Homo sapiens: one gene and its partners. The protein of the gene in region 3 interacts with the protein of the main gene of each other region in a pairwise test. Each region holds a gene or a part of one and is shown on either strand. Other genes may lie near its edges.

Region 1 (2,428 bases), on a different chromosome or scaffold from region 3:
GGCATCTAGTCCACCCGCTTGTTATGTAGAGGGTGAAATGAAGCCCAAAACAGTCAATCGTGAACTCTAAGCCGATCAGGTGGGAAAGCCGGCATCTCTAGAATGAAAACCTAAGGCTGCTTCTCCCACTTTGCCTGAGCAAATATAGTGAGATTACACAGCAAGGCATGTGTAAATTGCCAGTGCCTATTTCTCAGAACCAGATTTGGTGATCGCAAAGACTGACGTGGCCCTCTAGGTGTGCCTATACTGCACCAGAAGAGCAAGCCGAGAAAGCAGTGCTCAAACCTAGAGCATTCAACCTTTCATACCGATAAAGGCTTTAAAAAAAAAAAAAAAAAAAAAAAAAGCCCAGGTAAGTGAAAAAGCCGCTTTCGGTCAACGACTTAAGTCTTTACGGCTGTGAGCGCTATGGGCCGCGGTAGCTTTCCGTTAACTTCAGATCCGATTGTCGCCCCACTGCCAAAGTTACCTTCCAACATCGTTACTGTTGCACTTTACGCAGTCAAGTGTCCAACTCCTCAGATGAGCAAGTGGTCGGCCCTAAAAAGGGCCTTTGGGATCGAAACGTGCAAAGCTGGAGCGGCGGCCTAGCCTCCGAAGCCGTACAGGGTGCGCCCCTGGCGCTTGAGCGCGTACACCACATCCATGGCTGTGACGGTCTTGCGCTTGGCGTGCTCGGTGTAGGTGACTGCGTCCCGAATCACATTCTCCAGGAACACCTTCAGCACACCGCGGGTCTCCTCGTAAATGAGGCCAGAGATCCGCTTAACGCCGCCACGCCGAGCTAGACGCCGAATGGCAGGCTTGGTGATGCCCTGAATGTTGTCTCTCAAGACCTTGCGGTGGCGCTTAGCGCCCCCTTTGCCTAAGCCTTTTCCGCCCTTTCCTCTGCCGGACATGACCGCTGGAGCCCGATAGACAGCTTCTGTCAAGGCGAGCACCGTCTTCCCCTGATATACAAGAGTATCGGACCAGATTGAAAACCGAAAGCGCGCCGGCGGGAAGCGTTCTCAATTGTCCCCGCCCTCTCGACATTTCGTCATTTCTTTTCTGTTTTCCTCTCCCTCCTCCTCCACTCTGCTCAGGTCCCTCTCACTCTTTTTTTTTTTTAACCGCTACGCCACAGTCCCCGGGAGAATTCAGATCCCAACCGGGGCTTCCGGATTCTGTAGTGGCTTTGGCCTGTGTCTGGTCTGAGGACGCCCGGAAGGCATTGCACTGAGGCTAAGGGAAAGGTCTCTGGAGGGAGCCTCAGGAAGAGCAAATGGAGGCCAGAGACTGGCAGGAGCGCGCCAGCGCAGGATTTAATCCCGACGAGCGGATTCAGAGCCGTGCTTATATAAAGCTTCAGGAAGCGCCGTTCCGACGATGAGGTCGACACGCGAGAGGCGACCTCAAGAGCGGCGGCGCCAGGGATCTGTGCGCCAAGGGAGGACGGGAGGGAGCAGGTTCGCCATAATTCCTGGCTCCAGGCTCTGTTTTGTTGGACCGAGCCACTGTATTTTAGCTCACACAGGAGAATTCTGGCCCTGGGAAAATTGGTCTCAGCATGCTGCCAAGCTTTCTCATGGACGTCAGCGAATCCCAACACACTGTCGGTCAAAGCCGTGCTGGAAGAAACAAAACAGTTCTCCCTCGGTAGAACTGAGAGGGGATTGGTCCAGGGCCCCCGCCGATACCAAAATCCAGGTTGCTCAAGTCTCTCATAGAAAGTGGCGTAGTATTTGCACATAACTATGCACATCCTCCCGTGTACTTTAAATAGTCTCTAAATTACTTCGTAACACCTAATCCAGTGTAAATGCTATGTAAGTAATTGTTATACTGTTTTTATTTTTACTATCTTTTGTTGTACTTTTTTTTAAAAAAGAAATTCATTTGTTTAATATTTTCGGTCTTGGGGAACCCGCGTATATGGAGGGCCTGCTACATAGAGAAGACTGAGGGATATTCTGTGCATCCGTTTCTACGGATCCTCTAAATCGGCCTTTGTTTTCAGCCAGGATTTAGTGCCCAGCTGTGTCCTTTGGAGGCCCCACATGGAGCTAGCAAAGTTTGCTAAATCGGGTTTTGCAAGAGGACTGTCTGCTCCATACTGGGAGTAGTTACCGCAAACTGCCCTATGAAATTGGTTGGGGTTCTTACTGTTAGCATGTTTATTACTTTATCAGGGCTCTCTGTAGGAGAGTCTATGAGAAAATCTTCTGGTTTCTGCTGAAAGAATCGTGTTTTGTTGGGGTTTTTTTCCCGAAAAATATTATTTTTAAAAACTCTTCTGTGCCCTGTTTAATCTCTCCCTTGGATCCACCTTCTGTGTGCTCATAAATCGTAAATCTGTATTCAGACTTCTGGACTCGAGACACGTAGATCCACCTGGTGGTTCTTCAGTCATTTTAAGCCCAAAACTCAAAATCTCCCGAAATCA
Region 2 (2,180 bases), on a different chromosome or scaffold from region 3:
CGATAAACTAAACTTATTTACGGTCCACTGATTAAAGGTTGTTGCATAATAAGTTCTTGCTATGTTCAGCAGTTGGATTCACAGCGCCAGAAACCTATAACTGCTTGACTTTCCTCCCCACTACACTGCGAAAATTGCCCCTTAAATGTAACTAACCCTAAAACCTCAACAGTATCGTGGCCAGGCGTGGTGGCTCACTACTGTAATACCAACATTAGGCATAGGCGAGGGGATTGAGGCCAGGATATCGAAACTAGCCTGGGAAACACACGGAGACCCGGTCTTTGGAAAAATAATTAGCCTTGCGTGGTGGTGGGCGCGAGGTTCCGGCTAATCGGGAGGCTACAGTGAGCCATGATGACACTGCACTACAGTCTGCGCGACGGCCCATGTCAGTAAGCTCTGGAGCACCTGAAACAAGTTGTGTTGGGTATTTTATTTACTGGAGAGCGATTAGTGACTGATGCCTACTTACAGCGACTAGAGACGCATGCTCCGATAGCAGCACAAACTCAGCAGGCGCGAACAAATGGTAAAGAGAAACTGGGCAAACAAGCATCACGGCTCCTCAGCTGAGAAAGTGGGGGCCCTAAAAAGGGCCTTTTGTTGATAGAAAGGGACGCTCAACCACCGAAACCGTAGAGGGTGCGGCCCTGGCGCTTGAGCGCGTAGACCACATCCATGGCGGTGACCGTCTTGCGCTTGGCGTGCTCTGTATAGGTCACGGCGTCCCGGATCACGTTCTCCAGGAACACCTTCAGCACCCCGCGAGTCTCCTCGTAGATGAGGCCGGAGATGCGCTTCACGCCGCCGCGGCGAGCAAGGCGCCGGATGGCCGGCTTGGTGATGCCCTGGATATTGTCGCGCAGTACTTTACGGTGGCGCTTAGCGCCGCCTTTGCCAAGACCCTTCCCGCCTTTGCCGCGGCCAGACATGACGAGCAAGAGGAGTCTCACCCAACGCTTTGTGAGGACTCTGGCCTGAGGCAGCGCCTTTATACGACAGTTGGCGGACCGAACTGAGAACCTGAAAGAAGTCGGCGGGAAGTCCCGCCCCGGTGGGGGAGGGGAAATCTAAAGGGCCAAACCGAAATAGGGGGAAAAAAAAAGCGAGCTTCTTGTTTCCGTGTTCTGAATTTTGTAACGTGCATAGTATTTTGTTACCACGTTATGAGGCTTTAAAAAATTGCTTTTGAACGCAGAAGATATACATCAATACTGTGGGAAATACAAGAAAGGACAAGAAATTAAGAAACTACAATGTTATCCCATCACACAGGCTAGTTAATCATGTATTTTGCAGAGCAGTTGCACATATTTTTCCAAGAAAATGTATACAGTGTTGTATATGGAGTTTTGTAACCTCCTTATATTGATTATAATTTAACCAATTTCTATTAAAGAGATAAAAGTGATGTTTTGGTGTCTATGTTTCTTAGGAATTATCAATAGTTATAATCAGTTCCCCAGCAATTTTTTAATCGGCTGTATTTTAAAAATAATGTTTTCCACATTCAACATAAATGTACTTTTTCTCTATACTTGGGACCAATATTGAAATTTATGATTTTATTACACCAAAATTTAAATTTTATTACATTAATATTTAAAATTGTATTAGAGGTCTCATGATTTGGTACTACGGGTCTCCGCATTATTTCCTTTCCAAATTTCCTAATCTGTTTCACCAAGGTTTCTGGACAACTTTAGAGACCTTTTGTGAAGTTTGAATAAAATCTCTTCGAGATTTTGATAATTGCATTAGCTTTAGGACTTAATTGGAATAGAATTAAAATCCTTAAAACAAGCTCTTATAACTAGAAAATTGGTGTTTGTAGGTTTTGTGTGTGGGGTTTTTTTTTTTTTTTGGAAGGAGTCTCGCTCTGTCGTCAGGCCGGAGGGCAGTGGTGCAATCTCGGCTCACTGCAACCTCCACCTCCCGGGTTCAAGCGATTCTCATGCCTCAACCTCCGGATTAGCGCGGACTACAGGCATGCGCCACCACGCCCAGCTAATTTTTTGTATTTTTAGTAAAGAACAAGTTTCACCATGTTGGACAGGATGCTCTTGATCTCTTGACATCGTGATCCGCCCGCCTCAGCCTCCCAAAGTGCTGGGATTACAGGCGTGAGCCGCTTCGCTTGGACGCTTGTAGGTTTTTAAAAAGACACTTTTATATGA
Region 3 (3,663 bases):
AATGGATATTATCATTAAGACAGTGACTTTTCAAAATTTTAAGTTTGAGAAAACAAAACTCTGTGTTCAAAGTAAATCCTACTTGGAAGCCCCGCCCCCCCCCCTTTTTTTTTTAAAGGAGAGCTCTTCAGGTTGTTTTAGCTAAAGGAATCAGGAAACTTGAGTATCTTTGTAGCAGAAGGGTTAGAGCCACTGGAGTCCATGGAATGGGATGTTGAAGGTCAAAGTGGAGCAGATTTGGAGCAGTCTCAGGAGGGAGGAGACGATTGGATCAGGAGGGGTCTTAGCATGCCGAGGCACATTTCTTCCATTGACACCATGGAACAGAAGGTGCTACGAGGAAAAAGGATCCTTTTGCATGTGGTCACATGAGAGTAGTGGGTAGAGGAGCTTTGGAGTAATCGTGGATTTGAGATACGGTTTTTTCAACCACACTGAAATAGTAAGCTATGTTTGCTTCAGAGAGGAACGGCTAGATACTGATATTAAGACATGGAAGCGAGTGTTCATTAAGCATTCCACATAGAAGGAGCTGCCTGGAACTGAGAAATGGTTTGCTCCTTTTGGTGGTTGCTCCAGGCCCCGGTCTATTTTACTTCTTACCTGTCTGGCTCCAGTAGGCATTTGTGTTAGTTGTCCCTGACCTGAGACACAGGGTGAGCTAAAATGGAATGTGCAAAGAAAAGGCAATATAGGTCAGGAAGAATAACACAATTGTAATGTGAACCCTCCTATCTTTTTAAGCGTCAGCAACTAATTCAGGTTTTTTTATCTATGAGCACAAAAAAGAATGTTCTTGTTTGCTGTATTTGCTTAGATGTTCTCTACTTGTATTCTTTCTGCTAACATGTTGCTACTTCTTGGAAGTTACCGTACTTTTTATATGACTTTGTTACTTTACAAGGCCTTTTTCATGATTATTTAATACTATAGTCTTATTCACACACCAGATGGGCGGAGAGGTTAACCTTGGCACTGCACTAGCAGTTAAACCAAGTATGCTGGCAGGGCCAATGTATGTGTGTTTAGGGACAGGTAGGGGTTAGCGTGGGTTTCTGATTGATTTGAGGATGCTTCTGACTTCAGACTCAAAGGGTGTTCATACTGTGGAGGGTTAAAACCTTTCCTGTTTTGATGAATCCTAAAATAAGATGCTAATTCAGTGCAGTACTTACAGTGAGTTGTATTTGAACTAAAAAGCTATTGGTCTGCTTATTATATGGTTACTTGAAATTTCAGTGAATAACTATATCATCTTCATAACTGAAAGAGGACAGTTGTTTTAGATCCAAGGTGGAACTGAATTAAGTTGCATAAGGCAGCTACCAATATTTTCCAGTGCAAATGGGCTTTAAGAATAAATTGATGTGGCAAATGAACCCACATTTTTGGGTTTTCTCTATGCATGTTTCTGTCTTTGTCTTGTCAGTTTGTGTTGTATTCTGCCAGGTCAAAATCTGTTAGGTTGATTGAACTAAGTGATTTGTGAATTTTAATCCTGAGTGTGTGTGTGTGTGTTTCTTTCTCCTCACATTAGAATTTGGTGGCTTTGGTTCTGTAACAGGAAAAATTGAATGTGAAATTAAAATCAATCACGAAGGAGAAGTAAACCGTGCTCGTTACATGCCGCAGAATCCTCACATCATTGCTACAAAAACACCATCTTCTGATGTGTTGGTTTTTGACTATACAAAACACCCTGCTAAACCAGGTATGTAATAATAGAGTTAGGTCATTACTTGAGCAGTTTTCTTGATTCAAACTGGTAATGTTTTTAAGGTCAAAGTAGCATACTTTATAATATTTAAAGGTTTAAAAATTGCTTTGGGGGTCCCATAACCATCCTCAAGTTCAGGGATTTGCCAGAACTACCTAAAAGCAGCTTATACTAACAGCTAAAGTTTATTACAGCAAAGAATCCAGAGCAAGAGTAGGAAGAAAAAGATACACATCAGGGGAAGTCCAGAGGGGTTAGCTACAGGCGTCTGAGTCCTTCCCATCCAGGGCCACGTGGGACATGTTTTGTCTCTAGCAGCAAACCATAGGAACATGTGCTAAATGTCTCTACCCAGGGCAGCCCATTTGAGTTTCAGAATCTGGGATTTTTGTGGAGGTCTGTTGGCGTGGGCACATCCTGTTCTATGACCAGCCATGGTAACAAAATTGAGGACCCCAATAGTGAAGCCAAATACATTGTGAATCTTGCTAAACAATCCTACAAGTCTTGACAGGTCCCTATGGCATACCCCACTGCTCTGGGCTTACAAAACTTTATCAGTCAGTGACGTGAAGAACTTTCTGAGGGTCACATTCCCAGGGGTTGGCCAAGGGTCATTTATGGTTGCAGGCTACCCTAGAGGCATGCAAGGACTGAGCAACCAGACCTGTTGTGTTAGAAATATTTCTAAAAAATTGGGGGGTTGCGGGGATACGGTCACCACTGCCCAAATTTGTAGGATAGCTATAGTTTTTAATATTTTTGTGTTGGGGATAGTATTAGGTTTTCCAAAGAAACCAATCATCTAATGGTCATGAGGCTCAATTTGCATTGGGTATTAAAGACCAGATCTCGTTCGTGTGCAGTTGCTGTAATGGTTCACTCAATGAAGGAGTGAGAATTTATTCTCACCAGTTCTGATAAACAGAGAATAACTTAATGTTTTTCATCTTTTCTTAGACCCAAGTGGAGAATGTAATCCTGATCTCAGATTAAGAGGTCACCAGAAGGAAGGCTATGGTCTCTCCTGGAATTCAAATTTGAGTGGACATCTCCTAAGTGCATCTGATGACCATGTGAGAAACGTATTCTTTGTAATTTGTTCATATAGTGAGAGCTGACGTGTCACAGCTGTGCTGAAGGAGTACTATATAGATGAAAGGTTTTCTAAGATAATACTGCTGATTATTGTGGTAACATTCCCCCAGGACTTTAGAGAGATGGTTTTCATACTGCCCTGTATGAGTCTTCGGATTCCACAGAGCTCTTTTGAAGTAGCCTTAGAATGGAGGGAGCATAGGCAAAAGGCCTCCCATTATTTAAAAGAGGACCCTCCAGGCCCTTAAAATGGAAACTGTAGAGTGTTTGTGGGACCTGATTAATATAAAGTATTTTTTAAGTGTACAGTTCAGTGGGTTTTAGTATATTCACAAAGGTGCACAACTATTGCCACTAATTCTAGAATGTTTTCATTCGCTCTCTGAAAGAGAAATTCCATACCCATTAAGCAGTGACTCCCCACTCATTCCCTGCCTTCCCCCAGCTCCTGGTAAGCACTAATTTATTTTCTGTCTCTATAGAGTTATCTGTTCTTGGTATTTCATGTAAATGGAATCTCATATATGGCCTTTTCTGTTTGGCTTCTTTCACTTAGCATAATGTTTTCAAGTAACATTACTTATGTTCCATTCCTTTTTATGGATGAACAATATTCCACTGTATGGATATACCACAGTTAGCTTATTTGTCAGTTGATGAACCATTTGAGTTCTTTCTACTTTGGGGCTATTTTGAATTATGTTACAAGCATTTGTTTACAAGTTTTTGTGTAGATGTATGTTTTTATTTCTCTTGGATATATACCTAGGAGTGGAATTATTGGATCATATGGTATCTCTGTTTAATTTTTTGAAGAATTACCAAACTGTTTTCCAAAGTGGCTTTCC

Evidence for each region.
Region 1: the proteins of RBBP7 (region 3) and H4C14 interact in binary tests that used the Homo sapiens proteins (3 or more experiments, as listed by UniProt).
Region 2: the proteins of RBBP7 (region 3) and H4C12 interact in binary tests that used the Homo sapiens proteins (3 or more experiments, as listed by UniProt).

What each region holds. Positions count from the first base shown.
Region 1 is NC_000001.11:149,831,159-149,833,586, reverse strand, and holds H4C14 (histone H4), read right to left. Parts: upstream 931-2,428; 5' UTR 903-930; coding exon 591-902; 3' UTR 535-590; downstream 1-534. UniProt on the Homo sapiens protein: Core component of nucleosome. Nucleosomes wrap and compact DNA into chromatin, limiting DNA accessibility to the cellular machineries which require DNA as a template.
Region 2 is NC_000006.12:27,830,593-27,832,772, forward strand, and holds H4C12 (histone H4), read right to left. Parts: upstream 969-2,180; 5' UTR 936-968; coding exon 624-935; 3' UTR 582-623; downstream 1-581. UniProt on the Homo sapiens protein: Core component of nucleosome. Nucleosomes wrap and compact DNA into chromatin, limiting DNA accessibility to the cellular machineries which require DNA as a template.
Region 3 is NC_000023.11:16,856,724-16,860,386, reverse strand, and holds part of RBBP7 (histone-binding protein RBBP7), read left to right. Parts: intron 1-1,537; coding exon 1,538-1,711; intron 1,712-2,677; coding exon 2,678-2,793; intron 2,794-3,663. UniProt on the Homo sapiens protein: Core histone-binding subunit that may target chromatin remodeling factors, histone acetyltransferases and histone deacetylases to their histone substrates in a manner that is regulated by nucleosomal DNA.